Regions from separate parts of the Homo sapiens genome. Here region 2 is linked to region 1. Evidence: fine-mapped expression QTL. Tissue or cell type: whole blood. Region 1 holds a variant in brackets; the other region holds the start of a gene. All regions are shown on one strand. Distances are from middle to middle.

Region 1 (7,789 bases):
TGCAGTGGTTATAGTTATAAATGAGATCATCTCTGTGCAAAAATTGCATTTAGCACAGTTTGTGGCACACATTAAGCACTAAATACACATTAGCAGTTTCTTCATCATATTGTTACCGCTTACTTGGCAAGTGCTGACCATAACACATCTCACTTTTTGTGACACCCCTCCACACCGCCCCGTGAAGGGGGGTTGTATGCAAATCAAGTCCTCCCACCAGATGGGTGAGCAGCTGAGGGTTGAGCATATGGGGAGGGTTGGGAGTGTTTATCTTTTAAAATATGGTATTAAGGCACTGTCCCAGCACCAGGGAATAGAATAAATGGATTTATAAGTAATCCCCTCTTCAATCTGCTAAGGCATTGACTTTGGCGCTCTTGGCCCCCAGCCCCAATCTCACCTTCTCCAGGAAGCCACTGGGCAGAGTCAGGTAGGCTGGGGTATGCTGGAAAGAGCTCTAGATTTAGGAAACTGGGTTTGATTTTTATGTGTGTCTTTTATTAGTATGACCTTGGGCAAGTCACTGCATTTCTCTGAGACTTAGTTTCCTCATCTGCAAAGTGGGAGTCATAATGACCACTGCCAAAAATATTCCTGCTTAATAGTCTCTTCAGCTAAAGTAGAACACAGATTTATAGGTAGCCATTTGATAATTAGTTCTAGATATAGTTATAACTATATATAGGAAGTGATAATAGGATGATTAATCCCTGTTTCCATTATTTTCAGGGTTGATTGCACTTCATGTGACATAATAGACACAAAAAAACTCAAGGAGCTTGCCCAAGTTCCTGGTGAATGAATTTCTGACTCCAAGTCACATAGAAACTTAGTGGAAGAGCTTGGGTTGGACTCCAGTTCTCCCAGCTTCCAGAAACACCATCCTTCCTCTCCCCAGCGCCTTCCTCCCTGAAGCTCTGTTCAGGAGATGAGCATGAGCTTATGGTTGGGGAAAACATTAGAGGGTCTCATAATTAAAGAGAACAGAGAGAGCTCTGAAGAAGGGCCTGAGGAAGGCTGACAGGGCTAGGCTTAGGGCAGGGGTATTGCAGACACGGCCTGGGGGAGGCTGGACAGATGGCAGCTCTCCCCTCCTGCCTCCCCCAGAATTCTGCAAACAGCCAGGCCTAGCACTCCTTTCTCAGCCTTGCCTGCCTCCTCCAAGAGAGCAGGCATCCTGTGCCAGAGTGAGTACAATCCAAGTTATTAATTGCCTGCAACAATTAGCCCCAGCGCCTGGGCCTGCAGACACCCAGGCTCTGAGAGAGGGAGCCAATTACAGCTTCATCAATATTCACGCTGTCGCATAATCCTCTTCCAACAAGACGGCCCCCTTGTCCCCCATCCACATTTCTAGGGGTCTTTGCTCTGACCCCAACATCTGGAGAAGACTAAATATTGCTGAGTTCTTCAAGAGGAAAAGTCACTGGAGGGGTTAGACCCGAGGGGCTATTAGCATAGCAGAGCCAAGGCATTGGCAGGGAAGAGCAGGATCCTGCCAAAGATCTGGACAGTGTGACATTAGCCAAAGACAGTCCCATTGTTGGGGAGAGATTATAACCTCCAGGTTGAGGGTTTTACGTGGATACCCTGAGGGTTCTTATTGATAGAACCGGCCTGAAAGGAGGTCATAAATACCCAAAAAGTTCTAGTTTTAATCCCAGCTCAGTCACATACCAGCTTTGTGGTTTCTGGAGAAGCCCTTTGCATCTCTGAGCTCATGTCCTGACCTGTAAGCTGGGGGCAGTGGCCACCCCTTCCCATGGAGGAGGATTAAGGGACATGCTTTGCAGGGGCACATAGCAGTACAGTGAATGGTACAGAGTGGGCTGGAATAAATGGCTGTGCTTGTGTTTGATCCAGAAAAAGCTCCAGAAGGAGATCTCCTGACCCCCAGAGAAGTATAGGGTGATGGGGAACAAGGCAGATGGGCAGTTAGGAGGCCAGGATGCTGACCCTAGATTTGCTCTAACATGCTCTGTGGTCTTGGTGACCTTCCATCTTTGGCCTCTTGTTTCTATTTGACAGATGAGTACATGAGCTAGATGTGCTCCAGGGCCCCTCTGACTGTGATCTTCCAGGAGAATATGGGAAGACAGAATGAGTTCAGACTGGGTAGGAGGCCACAGGGAATATGCAATCCCCGATTTTCCAAGGAGGTAAACGGGAGCAGTGGTCAATGTGATGGAACCGCCAAAAGTGTGTGAAGGCAGGCACATAAATAGTTAAGCCACAGTCACACATTTGTTGGTTCTGCGGTGGTAAAAGAAACCACATATCTTTTATCAAAACAGAAAATAAAAGTCATCATCTTGTTCAGAACTCCTGGGAAAGGCTGAGTAGAAGTCCCAGCACAGGCCTTGTCCCTGGGGTGTTTCAGAACCATGGACAGTGGCTGCTGGCAGCTGGGGTGGAGATGAGGGCGAAGGGATGAGGGGCAAGAACTCAGCCACCGAGTTGAGTACTCGGAGGCAGTATGATGTTCAGGGTGAGTGATGTTGAGCAGGTCCAGGTTCAAGAATAGCAGTTACAACTGGCTTTTTTTTTTTATGAGGTCTCTCTCTGTCACCCAGGCTGGGGTGCAGTGGTGTGATCACGACTCACAGCAGCCTCGATCTTCCTGGGCTTAGGTAATTTTCTCAGCCTCCTGAGTAGCTAGGGCTACAGGCATGGGCCACCATGCCCAACTAATTTTTTCTTCCGTAGAGATGGGGTTTTGCCATGTTGCCCAGGCTGGTCTCAAACTCCTGGGCTCAAGCAATGTTCCACCTCGGCCTTCCAAAGATTGATGCCCAGACATAAGAAGTGCTCAGTAAATGTCAGCCATTATTATTATTATTATTATATTTTTAGAGACAGAGTTTTAGAGACCTTGGCCTCCCAAAGTGCTAGGAGTACAGTCATGAGCCACCACACCAGGACACACCTGACTTTTGAGTGCCCAGTGGGGTTGCTTAAACCTTCAGAGGGTAGGGGTCTTCCTCTGTGCCCCCTCCTAGGAATATCTAAGGTTCCTGGTGCACCTACCTGTGTACGGGCTCTTCGTGACTCAGCACAGAATCCCAGCCCCACCTCCCCACTCTGCCCTGCTCCTCTGTCTCTCTGGCTTTGGTTTCCCGGCACAAGTTGCCCAGTGCCTTTGACCACCCCAGTCAGCCTGGCTGGCCCACTGGTGCCAGGAGCCAGGTCAGCTTTAACCCTGGCCACCAAATCCCATCTGAGCCTCAGCAGTGACAGCAAGAAAGAGCTTTTCTGGCATCGTCCCAGTCAGGAATCTGTGCAGCTCTGATGGGCTGCCTCAGTGCCAGCTCCTATTCCGGCACTTTCAGTGTAGGCAGGGTGGAGCCTGTTCAGTGCCAGGACCCCTGAACTGACATGTAGGGCTGGTAGGCAGATCATCAGTGTCCTGGCAGTTAAAATACTTTTTTATGCAGCAAGGGATGCTACTAACAACATCAGCAACAATAATCATTAATGGCTGCCATTTCTTGATTGCCAGATCCTATGTATGTATTATTTCCTTCAAACTCACAACCACCCCATGAAGCAAGTCCTCTTATCATCCTCATTTCCAAATGAGGAAATTGAGGTACAGAGAGTAGTAAGTTGCTACAGCAGGTAGCAACCCAGTCAAACCCACCCAGGCAGTTTGACTATAGCCCAAGTTCTATATGACATTATTCTTCCCATTTTACAGTTGGAAAAACTGAGGGTCAGAGAGGTTGAAAGACATGGTGAGGGTCACAGTAATGGAGAGGATTTGAACCCAACGTTGCTGATGCGGTAGATACTGTTTATCTGCTCTACTCTTCTGCTCTCCATGGAACTAAGTCCCTGTTGGGTGCCCACTCTCAGCACTCCCTACTGTGGCACTGAGGTCTCACCCTAAGTCTAATCACAACTAAACTCATCTCCCTGTTCATCCTTAGGGAAGTCACAGCCTCTCTCTGAGCCCA[A/G]TCTACCAAGGGAAACTTTCTAAGGCAGAGCTCACATTCCAACTTGAGAATGGCTTCATTTGATGAGATTCTTCCCTGGAAACCAGCAGAGTCATGCCATCCTGCAAACTGGCAGGGTAGTTTCCAGGACCCAGGAGGGCCGAGTCATGCCCATACTTCCAGGACAAGATGCAGGGGCCAGGGCCACTAGCTGTAAACACACCGTGGGATTGGCATCACCTGGCACAAAATGCCAAGTCATCGCCTAGCCTATCATTTCACAAATGGGGAGACTGAGGCCCAGGGCGGGTGAGCATGGTGGTGTGGTTTCCTCCTGACAGTACTGTCCTTTTGGCCACCCCTCCAAGCCTCTGCGCCCTTCCCAACATCCCTGCATTCTCATTTTGCAGCTGGGCACGACAAAGGACAGCTGTTCTTGCTGGCATCTAGGGCCACATCTGGCAGCAGGATGCAGAAGGAATGCATGAGTGGCCTAAATGGCCACATGGGGAGCAGCCCAGGCCAGGACAGCACAGCTGGCTGTGCTTGGAGAGCTGGGCTGGCAGCAAGTCCTCCTCCTCTACTCCTCCTCCTCCTTCTCTTTTTCCTCCTCCTCCACCTCTTTTTCCTCCTTCTCCACCCCTTCTCCTCTTCCTTCTCCTTGTCTTCTTTCCTGTCTCTCTCCCACACTCCCAAACTCCCTGCCTTCTTTCCTTTACAATCATTCCTTGCTTTGATAATGATGACAGTAAACATTTACTGAGTACTTACTGTGTGACAAGGCCTGTACCATCTTCTTTAATCTTCATAACAACCCTTGGAGAATAATCATCTCTCTTTCACAGATGAGGAAAATATAGGTCAGAGAGGTCAGGGTTTGTATAGCCCAGCTGACTTCGATCCCACACTCTCCTGCTCCTTTGCTCTTTGGGGGACAGTAGCACTTCATCACACATGGGGCAAAAAGACCAGAGATGGTGCCATCCATTCTCTTTTGATCTTGGATGTGTTGTTTGGCAGACGCCTTTTTTTCTTTTAATTTTTATTTAAAACTCTAAGCTGATTTCATCCCCACCCCTAGTGTGCTTCATTCTCTGTTCCTTCTCAACCTCTACTTCCCAATGTGTGTACACACAGCCAGGGGTCAGCTGATGGTCAACATTCCACTGACTCAGGAAAGTGGAACCAGACCATCACATGTGGGACCTAAGTTCAGAGGACTTCCCCTGTCCCCAAGGATGTTGTGGTTGTCATCATTTTCAATCCAATCAAAGGGGCGTGCAGAGCAGGTGGCTCAGAATATGGAGTTTGTGGACAGACATACTTCAGTCTATTCATAGCTGTGTCACTTACTGGCTGGGTGATGTTGGCCAAGTCGCCTCAACTCTCTGAGCCTGTTTCCTCACCTGTAAAATGGAGACAACACCTGCCTCAAAGAGCAGCTGTGAGGATCAAATAAGTCTGTGTGTATAGTGTGACCAGCACATAGCTGTCCCCAGGTAATGTGATTGCCCTACTCCATCTCATTGTGGATCTAAATAACTTGGAAAAACATATTCCTTCCAGCCCGTGGGGGCCCCTGAAGACTCATTTCCTAGGAGTTGTTTCCTCTGCCAAATATTTGGTAGGATTTAGATTACAAGGTAATAGCCAACATTTTTCTATGTGCCCTTTGTGTGATGTGCAAATTGCTCATATCATATATAGAGCATGTAGGTTCAGAGCACAAGCCCTGGAAACCAATGATCTGGGTTCAAATCCCAGCTCCGTCGCTTACTAGCTGTGTGACTTTGGACAGTCACCTAACCTTTCTGTGCATCAATTTCCTCATTGTAAAAGGGGCTAATAGAAGTGCCTACATCTCGATGCTGTGCTAAGAAGTTAGGGGGTGCCTGGAAAGTTGTGAGATCGATGCCCAGACATAAGAAGTGCTCAGTGAATGTCAGCCGTTATCATTATTATTATTATTATTATATTTTTAGAGACAGAGTCTTGTTCTTTGGTCCAGGCTGGAGTACAGTGGTGCCTTCATAGCTCACTGCAACCTCAAATTCCTGGGCTCAAGTAATCCTCCCACCTCAGCTTTCCAAAACATTGGGATTACAGGTATGAGACCACACCTGGCCTCAGCTGTATTATTATTATTATTATTATTTTATTATTTTGAGATGGAGTCTTACTCTGTCACTGAGGATGGAGTGCAATGGCACGATCTTGGCCTACTGCAACCCCCATCTTCTGGGTTCAACCAATTCTCCTGCCTCAGCCTCCCAAGTAGCTGGGATTACAGGTACCCGCCACCACACCTGGCTAATTTTTGTAATTCTAGTAGAGATGGGGTTTCGCCATGTTGGCCAGGCTGGTCTTGAACTCCTGACCTCAAGTGATCCACCTGCCTCGGCCTCCCAAAGTGCTGGGATTACAGGCATGAGCCACTGCACCCAGCCCAGCCATATTATTGTTTTGTCTCCACAATAATCTTGGAAAGTGAGGTTAAGTCATAAGTCCAAGGTCACACAGCTAGTAAATGGCAAAGCCCTTTGAACTGGGGTCTGACTGGTTCCCAGGCCTAAGGGTTTCCCGCTGCAGCCTCATGTCTCTAAGGTTCATGGGTCCCACCTGTGGCTCAGCCAGTCTCCTCCAATGCCACAACCCAGGTGAGCTCCTCTTCCCACTCTCATGCTTTCTCTTGTACCTGCCTCAGCTGGAAGCTTGCCCTTTCTTACTGAATTGTTTATTTCTAAAACACACTCCTCCTTAACTCCAGCTGAGTGCCTTGGGGCTTCCTACGCTTGAAACTTGCTCACTTTGCAGGGTTCCCACGGCATGGGTGCCTGTAGAAACCCCAAATTCAAGTCTTGCTCCCCACTGGGCTCATAGGAGACCTAAGACACTCCAGCCACTCCTGCCGGTCACTTGGGGAGTGTCTGTTGCTCCAAGCACTGCATGTCCCCCACCCCACTGCCTGAGGGACAGACACAGCCCTGACATTGAACATGGCACTCAAGGTCTGCTCCTCCTCAATGACGTCTCTCTGACCCCATTAATTGGCAGTCCCTGTCCACACCCCCAGCAGCCCCGACCCGCCTGGCTTGATTGTTGCTCAAACATGCCGGCTCCTTCCTGCCTCCCAGCCCTTCCCCACACCACTCCCTCTACCTGGAGTGCTCCTTCCCTTCTTCCCTACCAGTGGGAATATTACTCATCCTTAGGGCCCAGCACATCCTTTCCATGGGGAAGCCACCCCCACGCCCTACCCTACTCTTTCCCCCAGAGAGCCTTCAATTCTCTCTCCTCTTTGCTCCTGGAACAATTTCACACATCTATTTCTGCATTTATCATAGGCTGATGTGTTTTCTATATACAGTCTGTTGTCTAAGCGTGAGGGTGCATGATGACTCTCTAGGGGGGCCACTCCCCAGGCCAGGGCTGGGGTACGGGGGAGGCAGATCATAAGCAGCAGAGCCAGGCCCATCTACTCCAGGACCTGGCTCATAGGTCTGAAGCTGGGGTCAGACCATATTCTTCTCATTTTAGAGATGGGACAATGGAGGAACGACTCTCTCATGATCATATGGTGCTTCCTGGGGGATGGCTGAACCTAGGCTTCCAACTCCTAATCCTGCAGGGCTCCCAAAGTCCCAGTTTCAGGGCTGGGCTGATCCATACCAGAACCTCTAATCCTCCTCATCAGCTATTGCCACAACAGGCTGTGCTTCTGAATCTCAGCAGCATTTAACAATTAACACCAATAATTTGCTCACAGGTCTAGAAGCTAGCAGGGAGCTCTGCTTCAGGCTGTAGGTAGCTCAAGTCTGCTCCACTTGTCATATTAGGGGCCAAGGCTACCCTGG
Region 2 (5,000 bases), 180 kb before region 1:
AGGCTGAGGCAGGAGAATCGCTTGAACCCAGGAGGTGGAGGTTGCAGTGAGCCGAGATCGCACCATTGCACTCCAGCTTGGGCAACAGAGCGAGACTCCATCTAAAAAAAAAAAAAAAATTAGCCAGGTGTGGTGGCACATGCCTGTAATCCCAGCTACTTGGGAGGCTGAACTTGGGAGGTGGAGGTTACAGTGAGCCAAGATTGTGTCACTGTACTCCAGCCTGGGTGACAGAGTGAAACTCCGTCTCAAAAAAAAAAAAAAAAAAAAAAGAGTATAGTAAGAATAAGAAACACCACTCTTGGCCTCAGTTTGCCCATCTGAAAAATGTGTGCACTAACAGTAGCTACCTCTTTGGGTTACTGTGAGAGAAGTAAAGGTGTTAAACCATCCAAAGTACCCGGCTCATACTAAGTGCTCAATACATGTTCCTGGTGTCATGACTGTGTACTGGAGGCATGCCAGACCCGGCCTGTACCCCACCTTCAGCGCACGGGTTGTGCAGGAGGTTCCTGTGCAGGCTCCGTAAGAAGTAGAAGATCTTCCAGTCGGCCACGGGCTGGTCCCAGTCCTCAGTGATGAAGCCCTCTCGCAGGCACTTGCGTTTCCAGAGGGTCACGAGGTCGATGAGGTCCCGCCAGAGGCTGCAGACCAGGCGGCAGTTCAGCAGCAGCTGGCGGGCGGGCACGTGCGTGAACAGCTCCAGCAGGATGTTCTCGGGCAGCTCGTTGATGTTCCCCACAGCCATGGCTTGTGGCTTCTGGACACCCTCCTGTAGCTGTTGAAAAGCTATGCTGCAGGCCTCATCCCTGCTCTGCCATTTATCTCGGGAGAGCATGGTGCCTCTCCCAGCCTGTTTCCTTCTCTGTAAATGGATGCCTTACCTCCAGGGGTCACTGGGGCGGTCCAAGGAGCTTGGGACACATCAGGTACTTTAATAAAAGGTGAGCTCTGATTTTTTTCTCTGGCCTCTCACAATAGAGGTGGAAGGCACTGCCCAAGGTCAAAAATAAGGGCAGAGGGGGAAGAAGCCCGGATCTTCTTTGATTCCAGGGCCAGCCTTTTTCAGTAGGCCAGTCTTTAATGGGGATATAATGCGCAGCCGGGCAGAGCACCCCAGGCCTCCGGTGCCGTCACCATCCTCTCTCCCATCCTCAGAACATGATGGGAGGAGGAGGCTAATTATCACTGCCTCCCGCGGAGGTCCAAAGGGCTCCAGCCACCTTCTCAAGATCTCAGAGGACATGATCTCCTGCCTAGGTGGGAGTGGCAAGAGGGTGGGCGACAGGGAAGGGCCCTTCCTATCTCCCCACCCCCACTCCCACCCCCAGCCCCGCGGCTGGGCTCCGCCAGCCCCAAGTCCGCCAGCGCGCCTGCAGCCTCCCCTTCCCACGCTGTGCCTTAAAATGCCCCCCAAAGTCTGGGCTCGGACCCCTGTACATCGATGGCGACCCCAGCCCCCGTTCGCAGCCGCGCAGCGCAGCCCGGGCAAGCTCGGCGGCCTGGGCCTGGTCGGTGCCAGGCCTCCCTCGGCAACTGCGGCGCGACCCGGAACCCAGGAGCCTTCCCGGCAGCCCCCGCCCAGCCGCGCCCCCTCCCCAGCGCCCCCCGCGCCCCCTCCTGCCGGTCACCTGCGCTCGGCCGCCGCGGCACGATCCGTTGGGCCGCCCAAGCTGCACCGCCTGGACCTGCGCTTGCCTGGAAAGCGAGGCCCCGCCCCGGCCCGCCAGGCCCCGCCCCCGCGCCCCGCGCCCCGCCCCGCGCAGCGCTGGGCCAGGGACGCACCCCCACCGCGTCGTAGGAAAATTACCTGGTGTGGGGGGTGGGGCGGAAGGCACCTCCTATACTCCGACTCCGCCTGGGCCACCCGCCCCTCACCCTCGGCCTGACCCAGCCTCTCCGTGCCTCCCCTAGCCGCCTCCTCCCAGCAGTCCCCCAGGAGCGAGCTGCGAGATGCCCCAAATCGGACCCCTCCCCAGTTGGAAAAAAAACGACTCCTGACCTTTCCCAGCCTCCTCGGTCCGCTGAGGAACCCGCAGCCCCGGGCCTCGAGCAGACTGCTGGGACTGCGGGGCGGCCGGGCGCGGGGCCAGAGGCGGGGCGGGGCGGGTCGGGTCGGGGGCCTTTAAGAGGCGCGGTCGCCGGGACCGACACAGACGCGGACAGCGCCGGGACTCGCCGCCCCGGGACTCGCGCAGCCCGCAGCGCTCCGGCTCCTCCTCTCGCGACCGCCCTCCGCAGCGATGGACGGAGACGGTGACCCAGGTAGCCGACGCCTGGACCGCTCGCTGCGGCGGGGAGGGGAGATGGGGTCGGCGGGCGAGCGCTGCACAGAGGGGCGTCAGAGAGCGAGGGGACCCGGAGACCTGGCGCGGCAAACTTTCACGCCAGCGAAGCCCTAGAGGCGGTCTCCAAAGAGCACGTCTCTCTGCTATCTTGGTCTGGCGGGAGGCCTTGAGAGGCGACTGGCAAGGAGAGAGAACTCCTGGGTCCCATTTAGCCAGGAAGTAGCACCAGAGGACCCCCACATTCCCGCCTCCCAGCTTCCTGAGGGTCTGTCTGGCGGGGGCCTGGGATGCGTCTGGGAGGGAGGCTGCGAGCCTTTTCTTTCATCAGCTCTTCCAGCTCTGGGCCTTGGGCCGTCTGAATCCCCGTGGGTTCCTTGGGGTCCCAGGCCTGGCCTCACCTATTCCTGCCTTCCTCCTGAGCTCCCTTGTCTGGAGGGGCTGCCCCTCCCCGGGGTGGTGAGATGCCCAGTGGGGACCCGACTAGCGGTGAGGGAGCGTTGGGGGCAGCTTTGGCTGGTGCTCAGGGCCTTCCCAGGCTGCCCAGTCATCCTCTCTGGCACCCAAGACCCCTCACCCCCATCCCTCCAACTCCCTGCGGGGCCTGCAGGGGTTGCCTGCTGAGTCAGGATGGAAACAAGACCTGCCTGCAGACAGCCCTCACTCTTTCCTCATCAGGTCCAGCTGGGGATGGGCATTGCTTGGGTTAGGCGGTGGCAAACAGACTGATGAAAGCTCAGGCCCCCCCTCACCCCCCATTCCCCCGCCTCCAGCCCTGAAAATTCCAGCTCTCGCAGCCCTTGCTCCCAATCCACGGCCTTCTGGCCACACCCTCTGTAGGGCTCCAGAACTGGCTCCTGCTTTTTCCCAGGGATCAGCTATACCCTGGACTCTGGGGCCCACTCCAGGTGAGTGAGTCAGCCTCGCAGGCAGGCAGCTTCCAGGGGCCAGATAACTTTCCGCCGGCAACAATGTGGGGAGTTGTGTGTGTAAGAGAGAGGGTGGGGGGAGCTGTAATTGGATCTGGGGCCTCGAGTGCCAGGCCCCGGGGCCAGAAGAGGGGACTGGGTGAGGTGCACCTTTCGGGGAGCATCAGGTGTCCGATGGGGCCAGGGCCGGAGGGAGGGCTGGAGAGGTGAGGACACTGGGCCTAGCTCCCCAGAGAGCTGTGGGCATCTGCCTGGGCAGGTGATGTGACTTCAGGGCCTGGCATTTTCCTCTGTCTTCCTGCCGTTCTGCGATGTGGTCTGGGAGAAGCTGTTAAGCCTTTTTTGGCCTCAGTTTCCTCTTTGCCAAAGGGGCCGGTGTAAATCCCCACATCATAAAGATGTGGCCAAAAAAATGTTAATAAGGAAGGAGAAGTGCTGTGTTCAATGAGGTTCACTCAGTAAGATTGACTGAGGACTCACTGTGTGCTCTGGGCTCTGTGAAAGCTCTCAAGGGCCTGACTGTGGGTTGGGCAGGGAGGAGAGGCTGCATATGAGGAGGTTAGGGGCTGGTGGGCCTGGAGACTTGGGTCTGGGTCCTGCCACCTGTCCCCTTCCCCAGTGCCTGGCCTGTTCCCACCACCGCCTTGGCTCTCCAGGGCCTAGCCCATGGGAACTCCCCATCCGTAGGTCTGAGAGCTGTAGTCTTCCTGATCACCCAGAGTGGCCCCGTCTCCTCCTCACTGGCTCTCCCTCGTCCAGGCATCTTGGGCACTCGGTGTCCACTTACTCAAGGCTGTGATGGCCCAGCTGAAGCCGACTGGGATGCAAGAGACAGTCCGGCTGCCGCGGTGACATCTGCCTGCCTCCTTACAATTCAGAATGCCCTTGTCCCCTTCCTCAGGGGATTTGGACGTCTGTCCTGTTTGTATGGCCTGGCACAATGATTACCCCCATTTTATAGATGAGAAAACTGAGGGCCACGGATGGGAAAAGGAGGTGGAGAAAGTTTCCTTCCCCAAGCCCCTATGTCATCTCCTTGCTTGATAGAGTTTCTTTTAATAAGTCCCTCCTCATCCCCAAGTCACACAATAGCTGGGGACAGCTGGGTCTCCAGGCTCTGTTCTCCAGCCCCTGAAGGCCCCAGGTCCCATGTCCCCTTCCCTAAATACTGGCAGTGTGTCCTTCAACAAGTCACTTCATCCCTGAGCCTGAGCATTTGCACCTGCAAAGTCAAAATCCTGGCCTGGGTGTAGTGGAGCATGACTGTAATCCCAGAACTTTAGGAGGCCGAGGCAGGAAGATTGCTTGAGTCCAGGAGTTGGAGGTCAGCCTGAGCAACAGAGTGAGACCCTATCTTTAAAAAGAAAAGTCAGCCGGGCGTGGTGGCTGACGCCTTTAATCCCAGCACTTTGGGAGGCTGAGGCGGGTGGATCACCTGAGGTCAGGAGTTTGAGACCAGCCATGCCAACATGGTGAAACCAGTCTCTACTAAAAATACAAAAATTAGCCAGGCGTGGTGGCACATGCCTGTCATCCCAGTACTTGGGAGGCTGAGGCAGAAGAATCGCTTCTCAGCTTCCAGCTACCCGGGAGGCAGAGGTTGCAGTGAGCTGAGATTGAGCAGTGACAGAGCAAGCGAGACTCCATATCAAAAAAAAAAAAAAAGTCAAAATCCTAACACTGCCTACTAATTCAGTGAATTATTCTGTGGAGGCTGTGGTGGTTTAAGATGGCTCTGGAGCCAGGCTGTCTGGGTTCAAATCCAGGCTCCAACCACTGATTAGCC

The links. PIP is the estimated chance that this variant, and not a neighbour inherited with it, causes the effect.
Region 2: it holds the start of FBXO2, and the variant in region 1 is fine-mapped to the expression of FBXO2 in whole blood (TOPMed, PIP above 0.99).

The regions. Positions count from the first base shown.
Region 1 is chr1:11,468,426-11,476,214 of GRCh38, reverse strand. No RefSeq gene overlaps it. Among named protein-coding and RNA genes, the nearest start is that of DISP3, 6.8 kb to the left of the region's middle. The variant A/G (reference allele first, on the strand shown) is at 3,957.
Region 2 is chr1:11,651,584-11,656,583 of GRCh38, reverse strand. FBXO2 (F-box protein 2) reads left to right here and starts at 2,155. Exons shown (of 6, transcript NM_012168.6): 1 at 2,155-2,265. The coding sequence starts at 2,244. It overlaps FBXO44 (F-box protein 44), which reads right to left and starts at 1,707. Exons shown (of 6, transcript NM_033182.7): 1 at 1,632-1,707; 2 at 484-778. The coding sequence starts at 748. RefSeq lists silencers at 1,476-1,545, 1,596-1,825, 2,066-2,205.